4 linked regions of the Homo sapiens genome follow. The protein of the gene in region 1 interacts with the protein of each later gene in a biochemical or structural test. Each region holds a gene or a part of one and is shown on either strand. Other genes may lie near its edges.

The links.
Region 2: the proteins of UBE2E2 (region 1) and PDLIM2 form a complex in vitro, tested with the Homo sapiens proteins (one study listed by BioGRID).
Region 3: of the proteins of UBE2E2 (region 1) and UBA6, one has a biochemical effect on the other in vitro, tested with the Homo sapiens proteins (one study listed by BioGRID).
Region 4: the proteins of UBE2E2 (region 1) and CUL3 form a complex in vitro, tested with the Homo sapiens proteins (one study listed by BioGRID).

What each region holds. Positions count from the first base shown.
Region 1 is NC_000003.12:23,206,327-23,209,826, forward strand, and holds part of UBE2E2 (ubiquitin-conjugating enzyme E2 E2), read left to right. Parts: intron 1-2,365; 5' UTR 2,366-2,373; coding exon 2,374-2,549; intron 2,550-3,500.
Region 2 is NC_000008.11:22,592,637-22,594,798, forward strand, and holds the end of PDLIM2 (PDZ and LIM domain protein 2), read left to right. Parts: intron 1-1,096; coding exon 1,097-1,274; 3' UTR 1,275-1,662; downstream 1,663-2,162. UniProt on the Homo sapiens protein: Probable adapter protein located at the actin cytoskeleton that promotes cell attachment. Necessary for the migratory capacity of epithelial cells. Overexpression enhances cell adhesion to collagen and fibronectin and suppresses anchorage independent growth.
Region 3 is NC_000004.12:67,628,156-67,631,655, reverse strand, and holds part of UBA6 (ubiquitin-like modifier-activating enzyme 6), read left to right. Parts: intron 1-1,120; coding exon 1,121-1,190; intron 1,191-2,513; coding exon 2,514-2,585; intron 2,586-3,500. UniProt on the Homo sapiens protein: Activates ubiquitin by first adenylating its C-terminal glycine residue with ATP, and thereafter linking this residue to the side chain of a cysteine residue in E1, yielding a ubiquitin-E1 thioester and free AMP.
Region 4 is NC_000002.12:224,505,364-224,508,863, forward strand, and holds part of CUL3 (cullin-3), read right to left. Parts: intron 1,641-3,500; coding exon 1,495-1,640; intron 770-1,494; coding exon 593-769; intron 1-592. UniProt on the Homo sapiens protein: Core component of multiple cullin-RING-based BCR (BTB-CUL3-RBX1) E3 ubiquitin-protein ligase complexes which mediate the ubiquitination and subsequent proteasomal degradation of target proteins.

The sequences.
Region 1 (3,500 bases):
GAATTTAGAGTGAAATAAAAATGAAAAAAAGCAAGAAATATGTTACGACTTTTAGAGCTAGATGTGAAACATACTGATATAAAATTTCAGTGTTCTATTAAGTGACTTTAGTGCTCATAAAAGATGTCACAGCTGTGGAGACTGGTGCTCTTCATTTACAGAATAGGTAGAAAAGTAGTCAGCTTTTCCGTTAGTATGTTTCAGAGCTGTTGGGGCAGATCTGTTTCTGTTTGGCATGGGGAGCTGTTGGGGTTGAAGGGGTGCTGGTGGTGGTGTGTGTGGTGTGTCAGTGAAAGGATTCACTATTTTCTGTTGACTCTTTGTGGCTCTGTGCTTCCTGATGCTTCCATTCTTTTGCAGTGCTTTTTGGTTTGTCTTACAAAAATTTCAGTCCATTAAAGATCGGTGTTACAACATTGCTTTGGCTTAGAGCAAGCTACAAGTTAAATCTTTAGTGATGATGAATTTTCATCAGTGTCAAATAGCTATCCATTTGGACTAAGTTATAGTAATTAAAAAATTTTGCTTTATTTGAGGTATCTTTACCTGTTCTTATTCTTGATCATATCAGAAACAGTTTTATTTCAAGTTGTAATTTGATTAAGAGTAATCAAAAGGATCCATTTCAAAAGGAATTTGTTCAGTGTACCTATAATTTTTAAAGATATATTTTTTGCTGTTAATGGTACTTATTAAGTATAGGTATTTTGTTTTTAAAAAGGTGTCTGAGAAGATAGCTATACAGTGCTGAAAGTGATTATTAGGTGACAAAACCATGGGGAGCACAAGGCCTTTTAGAGTCTGGGCATGAGTTTTGTTGGTTCAGTTCTGGATTTGTCAGAACACTTTAAGCTAGTCAGCTCATAAGGGATGTATTCATAGTCATCAAACTCAGAAATTGATTATGATAGAATGACAGTTGAGGAGAGATACTCCTTTTCACTTACTGGAATTGTTTGTGTCTGCTGTCTAGATTATAACAGCTACCTAAATATCAAGGTATTGAGGAAATTGAGTTGGTAATCAGAACTGCTTGGGGGGCCTGAACTCAGAGCAAAGGGAATTTGAAAGCCTTGAGGGATATTTTAGCCAGAATGTGGGGAAAAAAAAAAAAATCTTCAGTGTCTTCATCTCTTGTGAAATATGGTTGCTTTAGTATATAGCTGAATGCTGTCATATGGTTCAATTTTTATTTAGAATCATGCAGTCATGCAGGCCTCTGTGTTCTTCTGTTATCACAAAGGTTACTTAAAACCACTTACTAGTTTGGAGAATTTTAACCTTAGCCCAGCCCTGAGGATGTATTGATTGAATAGGGATTTGAAAGTGTCGTCCCATTTTTGTGTTCCCACAAGTATTTGTACTAACCTTCGTTTTTGTACTTAGCAAGTTGGCTAGTCGAGGTTTTTCACAGTTGTGGGACCAAAGGGCTTAGCACAGCGCCTGGTAGAGAGTAGACCCTTAATCATTTTTGTCTTATTTTCTGTAACAGCATTATTGATATATAATTCACATACTATAAAATTTACCCTTTAAAAATGTACAACTCTGTAGTTCTTAGAATATTTATTATTAGAATTGTGCAAGATTATAATTATCTAATTTAAGAACATTTTTATCACCGCACAGGGAAGCATCATACCCATTAGCCGTCACTCTTCACTACTCTCCCCTCACTCCCTGGCAACCACTTACCCATTTTATTTTTTTATTAATTTTTTTTTTGAGACAGGGTCTTGCTCTGTCACTCAGGCTGGAATGCAGTGGTATCAATCATATTTTTATTTTTTGTAGAGATCGAGTCCCACTACGTTGCCCAGGCTGGTGCTCCCTGAGCTTCCCAAAACATTGGGGATTACAGGCGTGAGGTTCACTACTGAATTTTATGTTTATGGATTTGCCTGTTCAGGACATTTCATATAAATAGTCAAACAGTTTGTGGTCCTTTGTGGCTGGCTTCTTTCACTTACCAGAATGTTTCAAGGTTCATCCATTTTGTAGCATGTAGACACAGTACTTCATTCTTTTTTATGGCTAACAGTACATTATGTGAATATACTACTATATTTTGTTCATCCATTCATTTGTTAGTGGATATTTGAGTTGTTTCCAGTTTTGATTATTATGAATAATGTTGCTATGAACATTTCATGTATAAATTTTGTATGTTTTCATTTTAGAATACATTTTGAATGGATGAAGGAAAAGTTTTAGCAACTCCCAAAGCTGCATTGTTTTGTAAATGACCAATTTAATCCATTTTATATTGAGATTTACTTGTTTTACTTTGAGGCTCATTCTCTGTGTTCTGGAGGTAGCTTACTGTAGTACAGCTAAATAAATGATTTTTGATTCTTTAATCCAGGATCTAAAATGTCCACTGAGGCACAAAGAGTTGATGACAGTCCAAGCACTAGTGGAGGAAGTTCCGATGGAGATCAACGTGAAAGTGTTCAGCAAGAACCAGAAAGAGAACAAGTTCAGCCCAAGAAAAAGGAGGGAAAAATATCCAGCAAAACCGCTGCTAAATTGTCAACTAGTGCTAAAAGGTACTTCAGTTATTATAACCTTTTTATTGTTGGTATCAATTTATCATCTTAAGTTCTATTTTTCTCTTGCATTTAATCATTTTTTCTGGGATGTCGGCCGTGAACTTCATGGATTTTTCTTTTCCCTTCAAGATGATCTCGTTTACATGGTTTTAACCATAGGGAACTTCAGTATTTAAAGTCAGTTAAATGGCAAGGCAAATTCATAACATACATTTCCATAGTGTGTTTGTGTGTTTATGTATTATCAGGGAAACATATACAGGGTGTGTATGTAAAATTGCAGTAGTTTCATTTATGGTTACTTGACCATAAATATTTTTTTTCTGTTCAGTAACACAGAATAGAGATTAGGAATCTTTGAAGTAGTTACTGAGTGAGTGACAGTTTATTTTCCACTACTCCCAGTTGGTAAAGTCAGAAATGCTGACATTAGCAACAGGTGCATCTTGGTTTCATTACATTAGTCAGTGGATCCATCTTGATACGGATTTTCTCTTTCTCTAGAGAATAGATGGATCTGGAAAGTAGGTATTTGAATGATTTTCTGTTGGTACTCAATCTCTTAAAATGATTGGCATGTCACTGGACTTAAAGGGAATCTGTTTGATATTGTTACATTATAGAATATCTCTTGGAAAATAATTTGAAAGATAAATTAAATGTAGTGTCTTTCCTGATCCTGTGATTTTATGTTCTTGCTTTGTTTTCATATATTTTACATTGACCAAGTCGGAAGTATACATAAAAGCGATCTGTAACTTGTAGGCATAGTGGAATGCCTGAATGTTGTATTACAGCTTTATATGTTATTTTATGGTGTGGGTTAAGGGGAACTCCTTTCTCAAAGATAAAAAACCATTATTTTGTTCTAGTAGACCTTGTTTTCCTTTGGCTTAGTCAGTCTACAGGGTTGGAAAGAACCTTCTCAGGACCCTTGGTGAGAGATGT
Region 2 (2,162 bases), on another chromosome or scaffold:
GGTGTGTGTGTCGGGTCCCTTGGAGGGTTTGTTAAATGCCGATGGCTGGGCCCCACCCCAGAGCCTCCTCTCCAGGAGGCCAACAGGCCTGAGAATGTGCATTTCTCACGAATTCCCCAGTGATGCGGATGCTGCTGGCTGTGGGACCCAGGACCACACTGAGAATCACTGCTCTGTTAAAAATCCAGGCAATGTGGGACGGACTTACAGTCTTTATGTGAGAGGAACAACTTTTAAAAAAAATTTTTAATATTTTTAATAGAGTTTCACTCTGTTGCTCAGGCAGGAGCGCAGTAGTGCCGTCATGGCTCACTGCAGCCCCAAACTCCTGGGCTCAAGTGATCCTCCCATCTCAGCCTCCTGAGTAGCTGGGACTACAGGCGTGTGCCACCATACCTGGCTAATTTTTAAATTTTTTGTAGAGATGGGGTCTTGCTATGTTGCCCAGTTTGGTTTCAAACTCCTGGCCTTAAGTGATCTGTCCACCTGGGATCCTAGGCATGGATTACAGGCGTGAGCTACTGTGCCTGGCTGACTTATTTATTTTTATTATTTTTAATTAGGGGTCCCAGCAGTGGCAGCGGTGGTGGGGGTTTGTGTGTGTTAGGGGGTTTGTCAAAGTGAGATTCCTGTGTGCAGCTTCAAGAATCAAGTCTCGGGCCGGGTGCAGTGGCTCACGCCTGTAATCCCAGCACTCTGGGAAGCCAAGGAGGGTGGATTACCTGAGGTTGGGAGGGCAAGACCGTCCTGGCTAACACGGTAAAACCCGTCTCTACTAAAAATACAAAAACTTAGCCAGGTGTGGTCGCACATGCTTGTAATCCCAGCTACTCAGGAGGCTGGTGCAGGAGTATCGCTTGAACCCGGAAGGTAGAGATTGCTGTGAGCTGAGATCACACCATTGTATTCCAGCCTGGGCAACAAGAGCAAAACTCCATCTCAAAAAAAAAAAAAAAAAAAAAAAAAAGTCTAGTCTCTGAGAAGGCTTTGGGCTCCACCCAGGTCCTGATGCTACAGTGGGGACCAGGCCCCCTGGGCATGGTGGCCTCCTGCTTGGTGCTGTGGCTCTGAGCTAAAGCCTCTCCCTCCCCTTCAGGAACCAGGCTGTGCGCATCCAGGAGGGCCGGTACCGCCACCCCGGCTGCTACACCTGTGCCGACTGTGGGCTGAACCTGAAGATGCGCGGGCACTTCTGGGTGGGTGACGAGCTGTACTGTGAGAAGCATGCCCGCCAGCGCTACTCCGCACCTGCCACCCTCAGCTCTCGGGCCTGAGCCCGCCATGCCCTCAGCCTGCCTCACTGCTGGGCCAGGGTCATGCCTATATAAGTTGGCATGGCAGGGACAATGGTGGGCAGTTGCTCTTACATGAGCTAAGTTTGGAGACCTGAGGCCCCTTTGTCCTCGCTGGGTGGGCCAAGGTCTGGGACCTGTCTTGGACTGTGGGAGACTCACCCTCACCTTGCCAGGCCTCTCCCCTGCAGGACTGGCATTGCACTAGTCTGAGGTGGCCACTGCCTTTGATCAACCTTTGTGTGCGAGGGTCTAAGTAGGGTCGAACACAGAAGTGGGAAGGAGAGGGGTGGGCCAGGGGCTAATGGTGTCACTGTGTAAAGTTTTTGACATACTAGCTCTATAAATATATGAATATGGACAAAATAAAGTAGATGTCCCTTCCTTCTTTTTCCTACCGCCAGCCCTGGGTATGACCTGCTCCCACCACTGGGTGGAGGGTCTTTATTTATGCAACATACGTTTCTTCTTCTTTTCCCTCCCTCAAATCCCACCCCTGCCAGTTGCCTGCACCTGACATTTCCCATGGAAGGGCCTTGCCTCTTTTAGGTTGGGAGTCATGTCATTCCTTAACCTTTTTGTAAAGATGCCCGTTTTACAGGAGGACGCTTGTGCTATGGAGGGAATGAGATTGTCACTGGAAGCTTTGGAGGGGATGGTGGAGGGCGCCAAGCGGAGGGACAGGAGGAAGACCAGGAGACCCATCCAGCCAAGCTGGTGAGACAACCTCTGATCCTGAGGACCGGCCGCCCACCAAGGGTTGGGCCCCCGGGGCCAGGTTGATCTACCGACACCTTCCACTTCTTTCCTGGGAGAGACTGCTGGCTTCATTGGTGATTGATTTGGAGGGGGGAAAAAGGGCAGGGTGGC
Region 3 (3,500 bases), on another chromosome or scaffold:
TAAATTCCTTAACTGTACATTGCAGAGTGAAAACCTTAGGCTCTTTAATGTTAAATTATTTCATCCCTGTTCATTTAAGAGTTAACAAGTCATTCTGACCAAGAAAGCCAGCCACAACCCTTCCCACACAAATGTGAATCCATTCATTTACATGGTAAATAACCTCATTATTTATAATAAATATCTAAGGTGAAACCAAAATCACCTTTTTTACTTTATCCATAAATTAGTAAAATGACAATGTGTTTTTACATTTAATGAAATCAAATATAAGAATCTTCAGTTATATGGAGGAACAAATAATTACTACTGAATAACTCCCTAAATCTCAAATTATTTTCAGAGGAGTTGGTCTTTGTGTGAATACCTGGAAACACTATATTAGATACACATTAGATTCACACTTGTGTGTATATGTATATTTTTTCTATTTTTTTAATTTAGTTTTTATTCTTTGAAAGAGACAAGGTCTCACATATGTGGCCCAGCCTGGTCTTGAACTCCTAGGCTCAAGCAATCCTCGCACCTCAGCTTCCCAAGTAGCTGGGATTACAGGTGCATACCACCACACCCAACCTTATGTATATATATTTTTAAACACTTAGCTTGCATTCACTAACCTTCCTTTCAGCAGATAACTCTATGCTTAATTTTCTCATCTGGTGGTGGTTTTAGGCTTCCAGTCACCTTATGCTGGACTGCTTCTTCTATAAGACTTTCTTTTTTTGTTTTTAAATAAACACATTTACTTAGTTTGAACTTGATATATACTCATTAAGACCAAATGTATAATATTTCTTATGACTTAAAATGAATTATTGTTCACTGGTCTGAGTTTTCTGGTTCTGTCCACTCACTCCTCTTCCCAAGGTAGTCATGATCACTACCTGAATGTTAAGTGTTTTTGAGAATAACTGTTTGATGTTTTGTCTTTTATAACTTCTGTAGTGTTTTGGTGTAGACCAGAATATTTTTGTCTAACTTAAAAAAAAAAACTTGAAATAATAATTCTGTGGTTATATTTCTTCAAACTACATTTAAAGGCTATAGTTCATAATGAGTTAAATATCGTCTTTAAAACTGTACATTCAAATTTTGCTTTATTTTTTAATTTCAAAAGGCACCTCAGTTTCCTTCAGAATGCTGCAAAACTATATGCTACAGTATATTGTATTCCATTTGCAGAAGAGGTAAGATATTCTTTAAGCCTTAGCAAGTGATGCAAAACCAAATTAGAATTAGATGACTGATGCACTAATTGCATCAAAACATGTTTGTTTGTTATAAGAATCACTCTTTTTGATACAGAATTTTTATTGTATTTTTACCCATACTAACATAATGGAAGCTAAAAGCTCATTGCAGTATTGCTAAGTAGAAGTCGGATTTTTCCTTCTGAATTGAAGCAGTGAAACAGCATTATTTGTTAAAAGCAGTTAAACTTTGTTTTAAGAATATTTATAACCTGCTTAGCAGCTTCAGTTATCCTAGTTATTCTAAAAAGCCACAGCAAACCATTTCATCGCAATTTTGAAATACTGCGTAGAGATTTTCTTTGTTAACATTTGTTTGTTATTTTGTGATAATTTATGTGCTTTTCAGGAAATCTGAAAATGCTCCCTTATATTGACATTTCTTACTTTAGCATCATACTCATTCTCTTAAACATCATCTTCATTGACTAACATCTAAAGAGCCTCATACGGTTTTGAGAGGCATCTCTTTTCTTCACAAATGCATATTCTAGCTAAGTAAATTGCTGTACTTTTAGGTGGGCTAAATAGAGAAACATGAATCAGATCCCATAATTAACACTGGCTGTTTTGGATTCAGATAACAATATCTGTTTTAGATTAATCCTTTTTGGAATTCATACAAATAAACTGTAAATATTTGGTAAAAATAGTGGCATTCAGTCTGATATTCTTTTTGGGAAAATCAGTGGTAATTTAGTGGTGAGTGTGGTAATTGACCTCAAAAGCACTAAGTCTCAGCCTTTGCCAAGCAACTTCTCAATGACAAATGTAAATACAACCCATAGCTTTAAATTCATATAAGTTCATCTTTAACCATTTAAATATCTCCCTCCTTCTTAAGGTATGAATTCCATTTACTTATTTTACTTATTGAGTATAACTTACTTCAGGGAACTTTGTAAAACATTAAAAACATAAAACATAAAGCTAAGGGAATTAAAACTGACTGATCAAGTCACTCAGTTTTATATTTACAACCAGTCCTAAAAATGCCTTTTAAAAAATTTGCAGAAGGACTAAAATTTCAAGTTTGTTGACTAATAAGTACTTTTTTACCCCTTACCTTCTCCTCCCCCATAACCTTTATGGGGGGATATTTTTATAGAAATAAAGATAAATGTCTCAAATGGATGTCTACATATTCAGATAATGAAATATTCATATATTGTAATATGATTAAGGACCTTTTGTAGGATATTTTTAGCTTTAGAATTTAGAAGAATATGTTTGTTGGTAAAATTACTTTTTTAAAAACAGGACTTATCAGCAGATGCCCTCTTGAATATTCTTTCAGAAGTAAAGATTCAGGAATTCAAGCCTTCCAATAAGGTATGTTTAAAAAATCATTCATTCAGCAAATAGTTTGGGAATTTGGACTTGTACCAAGTCCCATTCTAAACCTGGAGAATATCACAATGAATGGTTCTTGCTCTTGCTCTTGTCAGTGCAACTTGAGTTTGAAGTAGATTTGTCAGAATCACAAACTGTTGATTAATACTAATTTTATTCTAGTGTGGAATTTTAAAAAAGATCAGTATAGACTTAGATTGTATGAGCTACTCAGTTAATATTTTTTTATGCCCACTATATCATTGTGGGTATTAAAAATTAGATATATTGGAGTTCTGTCAGTGAACAAGATACATAAAGATCCCCTGTTGTTATAGAGCTTACATGCCTTTGTGAGAAGATAGATAATAAAATACATACATGAATAACATAATAATACCTTCTGAAGGAATGTATAAAATACATTGGACCAATGTATTTTGGGCGGAGAGGGACTATAAACAAAAATGCTAATAAGTACATAATATTGCAGTGTGAGTGTAAGTGCTAAGAAGGAAAAATACAACAGGGAAAAGAAAGAGTGATGGAGCTGGTATAATTTTATATGGGATGGAAGTGAGGAAAACCTCTGATAACAGTAACATTTTAGCAGAAACCTGAAGGAAGTAAAGGAATAGTGAAAGAGCAATGTAGGCAGCAGAAATAAGTGCAGAGAAAGGCCTTGAAAAGCTTTTAAGGTCAGGACTCGTCTAGAAGAGAATATACAAGGGGAAGAGTCTTAAATGAGGAAATTACAGAGATAGTTGGGGCTATGATAAAGAAAGAATATTTTCTTAGTTGAAATAAGAAGCTAGCTTAGTAGCTCAGAGTGAAGGGGATAAGAAGATAAAGGAAGTAAGAGCAAAGAAAAGAAGGTATGAAATAATTGTCCAGTGAAGTGGAAGAGTCACTTAA
Region 4 (3,500 bases), on another chromosome or scaffold:
CAACCTCAGGTGGTCTGCCCACCTCGGCCTCCCAAAGTGCTGAGATTACAGGCATGAGCCACCATACCTGGACAGTTGTTCAGTTTTTTTGAGACAAGGTCTTGCTCTGTCGCCCAGCATAGAGTGCAGTCACGCGATCACAGCTCACTGCAGCCTTGAACTCCTGAGCTCAAGTGATCCTCTGCCTCAGCTTCTGGGACAACAGGTGTATACCACTGTGTGCCACTAATTTTTTTCTTTTTTCTTTTTTTTTGTAGAGATGGAGTCTCACTAAGTTAACAAGGCTAATTTCAAACTCCTGGCCTCAAGAGAGCCTCCTGTCTTGGCCTCCCCAAATGCTGGGATTATAGGCATGAGCCACCAAGCCCATCCAGTTGCTTGTTTTTGAAGCCAATTACACATTAAGTGAAATGTCTAACTACGTTTGGGCATGTCAAGTATTTCAAACAATATTTTTTAATAGACCATGGCACCCATTTAAGCACAGCAATGGGTCATGCTTAATTTTTATCTGTGAAATGTCCTAATTTTACATATAATTTTATATCTTTAAATAAAATTAAATGTTATTTTCAAATGCATTACTACTTACCCCTTTGACTCCCTTTTTCAGCTTATCATCAATAAATAATGAGAGGTATTCAGGAGACCTGGAGTTGAGGTTGAGAAAATACTCAAAGTCACCCGCAATAGTTTGTTTAAAGAGACGGTCATTGTTGAATGATTCCAGGAGGAAGCGATCGAACCTACTCTTCAGATCCAATAAGCCCTTAGAAATAAAAACAAAATTTAGGACACATTATAATAATTTTTCCATAAATAATACACTTATGACCATGTATGTTTATCTTAACTTTGCTGGTAATAAACATGTATATTCATTTTTAAACTTACAGTTTTGATATTATTTTCAAGCCTATATCTAAGCCTCTATTAAAAATGTCAATGAGAGAAGTATTATAACTTCCATATATGTATTAATACAATGCAAACGAACCAAAGAACCTCCTCACTGTTTCTCATTCTCCTGTCTTGATGGAATGGGTTAGCCAGTGAAAAAAATTAGCTTAAAAAATGTACCAAAAAAAGCTGATTATGTTAAAACACAAAACATGGCACATAATTTATTCATAGTACTCCTTGAAAACAAAACATTTTCAAACAAAAAATACTTAAACCAGTTGTTTTTTCCAATATACTACAGTATACAAACACTAAGGCATACCAAAGAACCTCACATTCACTATTGAGGCTATTTAAACAAGGTCTTCATCAAAGAAGTTAAATGAAAAGTAGCAGCTGAATTTTAGCTCCCTGATATAAATACGCACACCTTGCAAAATCCTAAAATATGTAGGATAATTACAAATATTAATTTACTACTGGGACAATTAAGTTGAAAGTACACAATACACAGCATGGTAAAAGTGGCCTTTTTAGCACTTGTCAAAATGCCTTTATCATAAACACAGAGAATCTTCTGGGTTTACTTACCTGGATATAGTCAACAGGATTCTTTCCTTCTCCTTCTTCAGAAACAAGAGCTTTACCTTGCTCCCTCAAATAGGAACTCATACACTCACACATTGTTTTCAAACCATTTGGCACACGACTAAATAACTTGTACATGCAACCAAGGTCTACAAATCAGAAAACACAAATTGGCTACATTAAAGATTAAAGAAAAAAACACGAATCTCTGTTCACGCTATAATACTGAGAGAAGCTTATTTCTCCATTACCCCCATTTGCTGACCACATGACTATTAAAAATATACATATATTGATATGAAAACATGAAGAAGTAGGCTAGTTAATGGTTATTATTGTAATTTATAAAACACAACTTTTAGATGAGATGCTTTGAAACCATCAATTAAATGTCCTAGCAAATTTAAATTTACATGGAAGAGATGTCAAAAACCATAATAAACAAGTAATGTCACAAAAACATGGCAACTGCAGTTTTGAGTTCATAAATACTTTATCCTACATAACTCTAATGCAGACCTAATGACACTACAAAACGTCTACAAAAAGGGTCACTAATTAAGAGGTAATTGGTAGTCCCTGTAATGAGGAAGAAATTTTAAAGCCAGTTTAAGTCTTATGGGTATTTCCAAAGGTTTAACTGATAATCATGAAAACAAATCAAATGAACTATACTAGGATTTACTTCATTACACCTCAGGTAAAGTTTTTATGAAATGTATAATATAAATACCACTTCTTCAATATTTTCCTGAGAGCAATCCCTAATGTTTCCCAGGTAGCATCCTAAGCCAATATCTGTACTTCAAAATTTGGTCTATCTCACTATACTTTTTAAATTTAGAATGAAAACTCTGGATCCTATCCATTTTTTAATATCATTTTTCACAAGACTAAAATACAGATTTTAAAATACAGTTTTCCCATATGTCTAGTGTTTCTTTGCAATAACAACTTACTGGGAGAACACAGTGTCAGAACTTTACAATGATAATTTTAAAAGTTTTACAATCAATAACTTTTTAAAATGGCATTAAGAGTTTCTAGATCAGAGGCTGACCAATGTTTTTTCTGTAAAGTATCAGATAATAAATATTTTAAAATGTGAGCCATAGAGCTCTGACTCAACTACTCTGACGCTGTAGCAAGAAAGTAGCCACAGATAATACATAAATTATTCAGTGTGACTATGTTTCAAATAAAACTTCATGGACCCTGAAAATTTATATAAATTTTCATGTGTAAATACTCTTGATTTTTTTTTTTTTTTTAACAAAACTGGTAGTGCACCAGGCAGGCCCTAATTTGCCTACCTTGGTCTACAGTTCTAAGAGTAGTTTAGAGCTTAAAGTTGTATACATTTTTAAAATATTTCAAAGCAAGATTTACAAAGTTTTACTAAACTTTATTTCAGTGACTTTCAGCAGCAAATTTTAGTTAGTTTCCATTAATAATATATGCCCATAGTAACCTACACATGGCAATTTTATAGCTTCTCACATACTTAGCATAAATTACAACCAAGTTTCCCATATTTAGAACAGGTATTACAAATGCAACAATCTATGGACACATACTACAGTAAATGTGGCACACCAAATACTTCTAACAAAATGGTTCACAACTTGTCTATTTCAATCCTATGTTGTTGTAAGTTTTGCTTAGATATTACATGTTGTGTATTTAGTTGTACATAAATTACTACAATTTCATTGTATTTAAATGTTGGGGTAAAGGGAATGTAAAAGTAAATGAAAATAATTTGGCATGCAAAAATTAAATATCATTATTTCTACATACACTTAATAAAATAATAAGATACTGGCGAGACACGGTGGCTCACGCCTGTAATCCCAACACTTTGGGAGGCTGAGACGGGCGGATCACAAGGTCAGGATATCGAGACCACCCTGGCTAACACGGTGAAACCCCCCTGTCTTTAATAAAAATACAAAAAATTAGCCGGGCGTGGTGGCGGGAGCCTGCAGTCCCAGCTACTCATGAGGCTG